Homo sapiens: one gene and its partner. The protein of the gene in region 2 purifies or fractionates together with the protein of the main gene of each other region. This does not show direct contact. Each region holds a gene or a part of one and is shown on either strand. Other genes may lie near its edges.

What was found.
Region 1: the proteins of INTU (region 2) and FNTB purify together in Homo sapiens (affinity purification with mass spectrometry, with the first as the bait; one large-scale study listed by BioGRID). This does not show direct contact.

What each region holds. Positions count from the first base shown.
Region 1 is NC_000014.9:64,989,563-64,993,394, reverse strand, and holds part of FNTB (protein farnesyltransferase subunit beta), read right to left. Parts: intron 1-3,832. UniProt on the Homo sapiens protein: Essential subunit of the farnesyltransferase complex. Catalyzes the transfer of a farnesyl moiety from farnesyl diphosphate to a cysteine at the fourth position from the C-terminus of several proteins having the C-terminal sequence Cys-aliphatic-aliphatic-X.
Region 2 is NC_000004.12:127,718,784-127,724,309, forward strand, and holds part of INTU (protein inturned), read left to right. Parts: 3' UTR 1-5,526. UniProt on the Homo sapiens protein: Plays a key role in ciliogenesis and embryonic development.

The sequences.
Region 1 (3,832 bases), on a different chromosome or scaffold from region 2:
TAATCAGTGAAACAAGATAAATTAAACACAAATTTAGTAATTATCCCTGGAGATATAAACTCACACTTCCATGTGTAAACTGCCATTGTAAGGCCAGCTTTTTATTTTGTTTATTCATTTTTTACTTTTTTTAGAGATGGAGTCTCACCCTGTTGCCCAGGCTGTCTCGAATTTGTGGGCTCAAGCTATCCACCCACTTGGCCTTCCAAAGTGCCAGGATTACAGGCATCAGTCACCATGCCTGGCCAGTAGACCAACGTTTTAAAGATCATTTTAGCTGGGCGCGGTGGCTCATGCCTGTACTTTGGGAGTCCAAGGTGGGCGGATAGCTCGAGTTCGGGACCAGCCTGGGCAACACAGGGAAACCCTGTCTCTACAAAAAAATATAAAAAGTAGCCGAACATGGTAGCGCACGCCAGTAGTTCCAGCTAGTCAAGAGGCTGAGGTGGAAGGATCACTTGAGCCTGGAAAGTTGCTACAGTGAGCCATGATCATGCCACTGCACTCCAGCCTGGGAAACAGAGTGAGACCCTGTCTTTAAAAAAAAATAGAAATCATTTGAAAAAGTAATAAAGTGGTTAAGTTGCAGTGACCACAAATATATACCAACTGGAAACACTGCAAAAAAAAAATTCTAGGCTCACGTCTGTAATCCCAACACTTTGGTAGGCCAAGGCAGGCCTGTGAGGTCAAGGCTACAGTGAGTGGTGATTGCATCACCGCACTCCAGCCTGGGCGACAAAGTGAGACCCTTTCTTAAAAAAAAAGTCTAATGTTATGCAAGTGGATACTTGTAACTTGGAATAAACTGTTCAGTGGTAACACCTTATTCATATTCAAAAACGATGTATCTCAAGAACTGAACATGTGGTCCGGAAATCCACATTGGCTGACTCAAAAAGTGGCTCCAGTGATGATAAAAATAGTGAAGTCAAAGATGCATGTGAAGAGTCTGAAAAGAAACATTTTATAAATAAGAAGAGGAGGAAAACCAGCATTTCTAAATTAGTGTTACTTTATAAAGTAGGTGATTTTAAGTAGGTATATGGACCCAAATTTAAATGTAAATTTTGTAAGCAGGTATTTTTCACTTATATACCTAAAAGTACATGTATTTTCAACTTGACCAAAAACAACCTTTTGGACTTTTTAATGGGGAAATTTTGATATGCAGGATTACTTTACACTTGGGCAATATGGTATATGCTGAATTTCAATAAAATAAAATGGATTCAGAAAGCTAGCCTACTGACCACCTAACCAAGCAGAGCTCCAGTCCCTTCTATCAGAGGCATAAAAAGTTGGGAAGTTTTATCATATTTAGTGATTTGTTCCACCTCCATTTACTAATATTTTGGATCCTATAAGCTGAAATAAGTCAACAGCAGGTCAGGATTCTGTTCCGCTGGTCCCTCCTTAGGATATGTGGTGGCCCACTGCCCGAACCTGAAGCCAGCACATCACCTGCCTCTTAATACCCTGATAGGGGCCCACCCGCCCAGCTCACCTCATTTCCTACCACATCCAACCTGCACCCTCCGTTCCTGGTAAGCCATCTTAACGCCCCCAGTCAAGCCTGAGTCTTCCCTCAAAACAGCTCTCCCTCCTTGAATGGCTGCCCCAAACTCTATTTTTTACAGCCCACCCAGTTCCACGTTCTCCATGAAGTCATCCTGACCACCTCAGCCCACACAGATGGCTTTTCAACTCCCCAAAATCCTCGTGCAAAGCAGTTATAATTTAGCACTCTGTGACTGCCTATAGCATATTCTTCTTATTTTTTTCTTTTTTGAGATGGAGTCTTGCTCTGTCACCCAGGCTTGAGTGCAATGGTGCAATCTCGGCTCACTGCAACCTCCGCCTCCCAGGTTAAAGAGATTCACCTGCCTCAGTGTCCTGAGTAGCTGGTATTACAGGTGCACACCACCACGCCTAGCTAATTTTTGTATTTTTTTAGTAGAGATGAGGTTTCACCATGTTGGCTAGGCTGGTCTCAAACTCCTGACCTCCAGTGATCCGCCAGCCTCAGCCTCCCAAAGTGCTGGGATTACAGGAGTGAGCCACCGCACTCGGCCTTACAGCATATTCTTTTTTATCTCTCTAAGATAAAAGAATTTTGAGGGCAGGGATCAAGACTAATAATTCTCTTATATTCCCCTCAGAGTTCAAGTCACTTCATTGACAATGAACCATGCCAATGGTTCAATGACACCATGCCATTTAAAGTGGAGGACGCGTTTGCCTCTGTTCAAAGACAAACTCAAAGAAAAACAGTAGTATCTTTTGTAAACACCTGTTTTTGGCAAGGCTGCTACCTCTGAGACTATCAGTATTAACCTACTGGCCTGAATCAGAGTGTCTGCAATGGGATGATTCCAGATGGCACAATAAGGAAGGCAGGCACTAACAATACAACCATGTCTTGTTCTCTAGTGTCATGAAAGGCCCTCCCTGCATCTGCATTAACAAAACAGCTTAGCAAGGTAGAGACCTTCATAAAAATATCCAGAGCTGACCATTTCTCATTACCTCCACTACCGTCACTGTGAGCTAAGCCACCGTCACCTCTCTCCCAGGATACTGCAATAGCCTCCTAACTGGTTTCCCTGTATCCACCCTCACTCCCCACCATCTACTCTTGACAGTAACCTAAATGAGCCTGTTAAAATGCTAGTCAGACTGTGTCACTCCCCTGCTCAAAACTCTCTGATCATGGATCAGTCTAAGTCCTGGCAGGAAACAGATGGCACAAAGTGGGTGATTTGAGGAGAGTTTATAAAGGAACTATTTACAAAGATGTGGGCAGGTGTAGGGAAACCACAAGAGAAAATGCAGTATCTGGAGCTGGTAAATCAGGGGTACCTGAACTCCTCATAGACCTGAAGGTGTGAAGGATGGAGAGGGAGGGAGACAAAGAGCTCCGCAGAGAAGGCACATGACAGGAAATGTGACCTTAAGTCTAAGGAAACCCCACCCCACACAAGCCTGCAGGAGGGAAGAAATACAGTGGTCTCATTCTTCTCCTTCTCGGTCACCCCCAGCAATACTTCCCATGGCCCGCAGCCATAAAGCAAGGCAACCTGTCAGTGCAGGGCCCCCTCCTGGGGCACATCTACAGAGCAGGCTAGAAAAGGGCCAAGTGAATCTGGGGCAGTAAATGGCAGGTATACAGCCAAGTGGCTCTCCATCTCAGTCAGGGTATTTTAAAGTACTTCCAAAGGCCAATGAGACCCTACATGATCCGACCCATCTCCTACTCTCTGGTTTGCTAAGCCCCCTGCTCACCTGGCATTCTGCTGCCTTGGTCCTTTGTGCTTGCTGCTTTCTCTGCCCAGAATACTCTTGCACCAGATCCATGATGGCTTCCTCCCTCATCTGAGACTTCAGGTCTCAGATCACATGTGTTGTCACCAGAGGGTTCCCCTTAACACCTTATATGAAGACCTCCCCTGCTCCCACCCCACCCATTCCTGACACACCCTATCCCCTCTATCCCAAGGTGTTACTCTCCACAGCGTTTCTAATTAACATTTTATATTGAGATAGCTATAGATATTAACTCTTTTAATTGACTGCCTCATTGGCCTAGAAACAGTTTCATAAAGGCATCAACTTGGCCTCTTTTGTTTAACAACTTATGCCGAGTGTCTAGAACAGTGCCTGGCACGTAGAAGGCGCTCAAGTATTTGCTGAATGAATGAGAATCAACGAATGGAACAGACGACTCACAGCTAAGGACTCCTTCCACTATTTATAGGTTTAACTCCTATTACCAAATTATTGCTTAACAAATAAACCGAGTCTTCTGATAATCAGATAGGAAGCAGGTAAC
Region 2 (5,526 bases):
TTGCCTGTTGTTGGTGTATAGGAATGCTGGTGACTTCTGCACAATGATTTTGTATCTTGAGACTTTGCTGAAGTTGCTTATCAGCTTAAGAAGCTTTTGGGCTGAGACAATGGGGTTTTCTAGATATAGGATAATGTCCTCTGCAAACAAAGACATTTTGACTTCCTCTCTTCTTCTTTGAATACCCTTTATTTCTTTCTCTTGCCTGATTGCCCTGGCCAGGACTTCCAATACTATGTTGAATAGTGGTGAGAGAGGTCATCCTTGTCTTGTGCTGGTTTTCAAGGGGAGTGCTTCCAGCTTTTGCCCATTCGGTATGATATTGGCTGTGAGTCTGTCATAAATGGCTCTTATTATTTTGAAGTATGTTCCTTCAATACCTAGTTTATTGAGAGTTTTTAACATGAAAGGATGTTGAATTTTATTGAAGGTGTTTTCTGCATCTATTGAGTTAATCATGTGGTCTTTGTCTTTAGTTCTGTTTGTGTGATGAATTAAGTTTATTGATTTGCATATGTTGAACCAGCCTCACATCCCGGGAATGAAGCCAACTTGATCGTGGTGGATAAGCTTTTTGATGTGCTGCTGGATTCAGTTTGCCAGTGTTTTATTGAGAATTTTTACATTGATGTTCATCAGGGATATTGGTCTGAAGTTTTCTTTTTTTGTTGTATCTCTGCCAGGTTTTGATATCAGGATGATGCTGGCCTTATAGAATGAGTTAGGGAGGAGTCTCTCCTTTTCATTTGTTTGGAATAGTTTCAGAAGAAGTGGTATCAGCTTCTTTTTGTATTTCTGGCAGAATTCAGCTGTAGATCCATCTGGTCCTGGGCTTTTTTTGGTTGGTAGCCTATTAATTACTGCCTCAATTTCAGAACTTGTTATTGGTCTATTCAGTGATTCAACTTCTTCCTGGTTCAGTCTTGGGAGGGTGTATGTGTCCAGGAATTTATCCATTTCTTCTAGATTTTCGAGTTTATTTGCACCGAGCTGTTATAGTATTGTCTGATGGTTGTTTATATTTCCATGGGATCAGTGGTAATATCCCCTTTATCATTTTTTATTGTGTCTATTTGGTTCTTCTCTCTTTTCTTCTTTATTAGTCTAGCTAATAGTCTATTTTGTTAATATTTTCAAAAAAAAGCAGCCCCTGGATTCATTTATTTTTTGAAGGGTTTTTCATGTCTCTAGCTCCTTCATTTCCACTCTGATTTTGGTTACTTTTTGTCTTCTGCTGGCTTTTGGGTTTGTTTGCTCTTGGTTCACTAGTTCTTTTAGTTGTGATACTAGGGTGTCGATTTGAGATCTTTCTAGCTTTTTGATGTGGGCATTTAGTGCTATAAATTTCCCTCTTAACACTGCTTTAGCTATGCCCCAGAGATTCTGGTACATTGTCTCTTTGTTTTCATTGGTTTCAAAGAACTTCTTGATTTCTCTCTTAATTTCATTATTTACCCAGGAGTCATTCAGGAGCAGGTTGTTCAATTTCCACGTAGTTTTGTGGTTTTGAGTGACTTTCTTACTCTTGAGTTCCAATTTGATTGCGCTGTGATCTGAGAGACTGTTTGTTATTACTTCAGTTCTTTAGCATTTGCTGAGGAGTGCTTTACTTCTAATTGTGTGATCAATTTTAGAGTAAGTACCATGTGGCACTGAGAAGAATATATATTCTGTTGTTTGGGGGTGGAAAGATGTCTAGATATTTATCAGGTCCCACTTGATCCAGAGCTGAGGTCAAGTCCTGAATAACTTTGTTAATTTTCTGTCTCGATGATCTAATATTGACAGTGGGGTGTTAAAGTCTCCCACTATTATTGTGTGGAAATCTAAGTCTCTTTTTGGGTCTCTAAGAACTTGTTTTATGAATCTGAGTGCTCCTATATTAGGTGCATATATATTTAGGATAGTTAGCTCTTCTTGTTGAATTGACCCCTTTACCAGTATGTAATGCCTTTGTCTTTTTTTTAATCTTTATTCGTTTAAAGTCTTTGTCAGAAACTAGGATTGCAGCCTCTCCTTTTTCTGTTTTCCTTTTGCTTGGTAGATTTTCCTTCATCCTTTTATTTTGAGTCTATGTGTGTCCTTGCATGTGAGATGGGTCTCTTGAATACAGCACACTGATAGAGTTTGACTCTATCCAGCTTGCCACTCTGCGTCTTTTATTTGGGGCATTTAGTGCATTTACATTTAAGGTTAATATTGTTATGTGTGAATTTTATCCTGACATCATGATGCTAGTTGATTATTTTGCAGACTTGTTTATGTTTTTGCTTCATAGTGTTACTGATCTGTGTATTTCAATGTGTTTTTTGTAGCGGCTGGTAACAGTTTTTCCTTTCCATATTGAGTGCTTCCTTCAGGAGCACTTGCAAGGCAGGCCTGGTGGTGACGAATTCCCTCAGCATTTGCTTGTCTGAAAAAGATTTTATTTCTCCTTCACTTATGAAGCTTAGTTCAGCCAGATATGAAATTCTAGGTTGGAAATTCTTTCCTTTAAGAATGTTGAAAATTGGCCCCCAACCTCTTCCAGCTTATAAGGTTTCTGCTGAGAGGTCTGCTGTTAGTCTGATGGGCTTCCCTTTATAAGTGACCTGGCCTATCTCTCTGACTGCCCTTAACATTTTTTCCTTCATTTCAGTCTTGGAGAATCTGATGATTATGTGTCTTGGGGTTGATCTCATGGAGTATTGTATTGGGGTTCTCTGGATTTCCTGAATTTGAATGTTGGCCTGTCTTGCTAGGTTGGGGAAGTTTTCCTGGATGATATCCAGAAGTGTGTTTTCCAACTTGGTTCCATTCTTCTGTCTCTTTCAGGTATATCTACCAGTCGTAGGTTCAGTCTTTTAACATAATCCCATAGTTCTCAGAGGTTTCATTCATTCCTTTTCATTCTTTTTTCTCTAATCTTGTCTGCCTGCCTTATTTCAGCAAGATAGTCTTCAAACTCTGATATCCTTTCTTCCACTTAGTCTATTTGGCTATGGATACTTGTGTTTCCATTATAAAGTTCTCATGTTTTTCAGCTCCATCAGATCATTTACGTTCCTCTCCAAACTGGTTATTCTGTTTAACAGCTCCTATAATGTTTTATTATGGTTCTTAGCTTCTTTGCAGTGAGTTAGAACATATTCCCTTAGCTTGGTGAAGTTCGTTATTTCCCATCTTGGATGGATGATTGACATTCATCCATCTCAGCCTCAGCCCAGTTCTGTGCCCTTGCTAGAGACATGTTGCAATCTTTTGGAGGAGAAGAGGCACTCTGGCTTTCTGAGTTTTCCGTATCCTTGCATTCTTTCTCATCTTCATGGGTTTATCTACCTTTGATCTTTGAGTCTGCTGACTTTTGGATGAGGTTTTTGTGGTGTCTTTTTTGTTGATGTTGTTGCATTCTGTTTTTCTTTAGTAGTCAGGCCCCTCTTCTGCAGAGCTGCTGCAGTTTGCCTGGGGTCCACTCTAGACCCTATTCGCCTGGGTCTCTCGTCTTCCAGGAGATATCACCAGTGGAGGCTGCAGACCAGCAAAGATGGCAGCCTGCTCCTTCCTCTGGGAGCTCTGTCCCAGAGGGGCACTGGCCTGATGCTAGCCGGAATGCTCCTGTATGAAGTGTCTGGAGACTCCTGTTGGGAGGTCTCAGTCAGAAGGAGCGGGGTCAGAGAACCACTTAAATAAGCAGTCTGTCTGCCCCTTGACAGGGTGGGTGTGCTACACTGGGGGGAATCCCCCTCATCTGGACTGCCTTGACTCTCCAGAGCCAGCAGGCAGAGAAGACTAAGATCACTGATCCATGATACTTCAGCCATCCTTCCTCCTAGGGGCTCCTCTTGGGGTTATCAGCGTTTTGTCCATAAACCCCTGGCTGGGGATGCTGAGATTCCCACAGGGAGGCCCTGTCCAGTGAAGAGGAGTGAATCTGGGTTCCACCCCATCTCGCCGGCGCTAGCAGCAAGGGAAAGTGGCCAATTGAAGCCGCAGTGATGGCGGCCTCCCCTCCCTTCTCCCCCCTCTCCTTCCCCACTTCCAGAACTCAGTCGTCTTAGGCAGTTTCTAGCTGGTGGGGGAGGATTCCAAGCCAGTGGGTTTTAGCTTATAGAGTTCTGTGAGAGCAAGGCTGCTTGGCTCCCTGGCTTCAGCCCCCTCCCCATGAGAGTGGACAGATCTCCTGCCTCACGGGAGTTCCCAGAGCCGGAGTATGCAAATACTCCAGTGTCTCAGTGCCTGCTCAAAGCGGCTGCCCACCCAAGCAGAGATTTGTGCTTGGGACCCAAAGCTCTGGTAGCATTGGCTCAGGAGGGAACCTCCTGATCTACAAGTTGCAAGGATCTGTGGGAAAAGCCTGGTTTTCAGGGAGGGGAAGCAAAATCCTTCACCATCTCCCTTGGCTGGACGAGGGAGTTCACTTTGCTGCGTGCAGTTCCTGGATGGGATCTTGCTCCACCCTGTTTGCTTGCTCTCCGTGGGTCATGCCAGCCACCTAGCAGTCCCAATAAGAGAACTTCAGTATCTCAACTGAAGATGCAGAGTTGACTCACAGTTTTCTTCCTTCTTGGTGGGAGCTGCAGAGCAGAGCTGCCTCTCTTTGACCATCTGGGCTCTCTGTTCTACTTTTTTTTTTTTTTTTTTTGCCTCTTGCATGTTGGTCACCTCCTAAATTAGTAATGTCCAAGTACTTATTCCTTATCAGATACTTTTCGTTAATTTAACTATCCTAGTACATACCTCACTGTGGGGAAAGGGGGAAAGATGAAAATTAAACTTACTTTTTATTTATTTGATTCTCTTTAAGTTTCAGGTAAGCTCAATTTTGACTAGGATATATATATGTGTGTGTGTGTATATATATGTATTTTTTAAACTATTTGTCAACTTTATTTTTTTTTGTTTGTTTTTGTTAAAATACATTCAGCGGCTGGGCTTAGTGGCTCACGCCTGTAATCTCAACACTTTGGGAGGCTGAGGCAGGTGGATCACTTGAGTCCAGGAGTTCAAGACCAGCCTGAGCAACATAGCAAAAACTCCATCTCTACAAAAACACCAAAATTAGCCGGGTGTGGTAGCACTCTCTTTTAACAGTCCCAGATACCTGGGAGGCTGAGGTGGGAAGATCACCTGAGCTCAGTCGGTTGAGGCTGCAGTGAGCTATGATCATGCCACTGCACTCTAGCCTGGGCAACACAGTGAGACCCTGTCTCAAAAAAAAAAATCACATTCAAGTATATTTCACATGCATTTTATATAATTCATGAATTTCAGGAAAGCTGCATGTAAATCTTTTTTTAAAGCTAAATCATGTTAAAGACACTGAAAAAGTTAACTAAAATTCTATGGTGACTTCTTTTATAAAATACTAATTTTTGGCCGGGCACGGTGGTGGCTCACGCCTGTAATCCCAGCACTTTGGGAGGCCGAGGCAGGTGGATCATGAGGTCAGGAATTCGAGACCAGCCTGACCAACATGGTGAAACCCCATCTCTACTAAAAATACAAAAATTAGCTGGGCGTGGTGGTGTGCACCTGTAATCCTAGCTA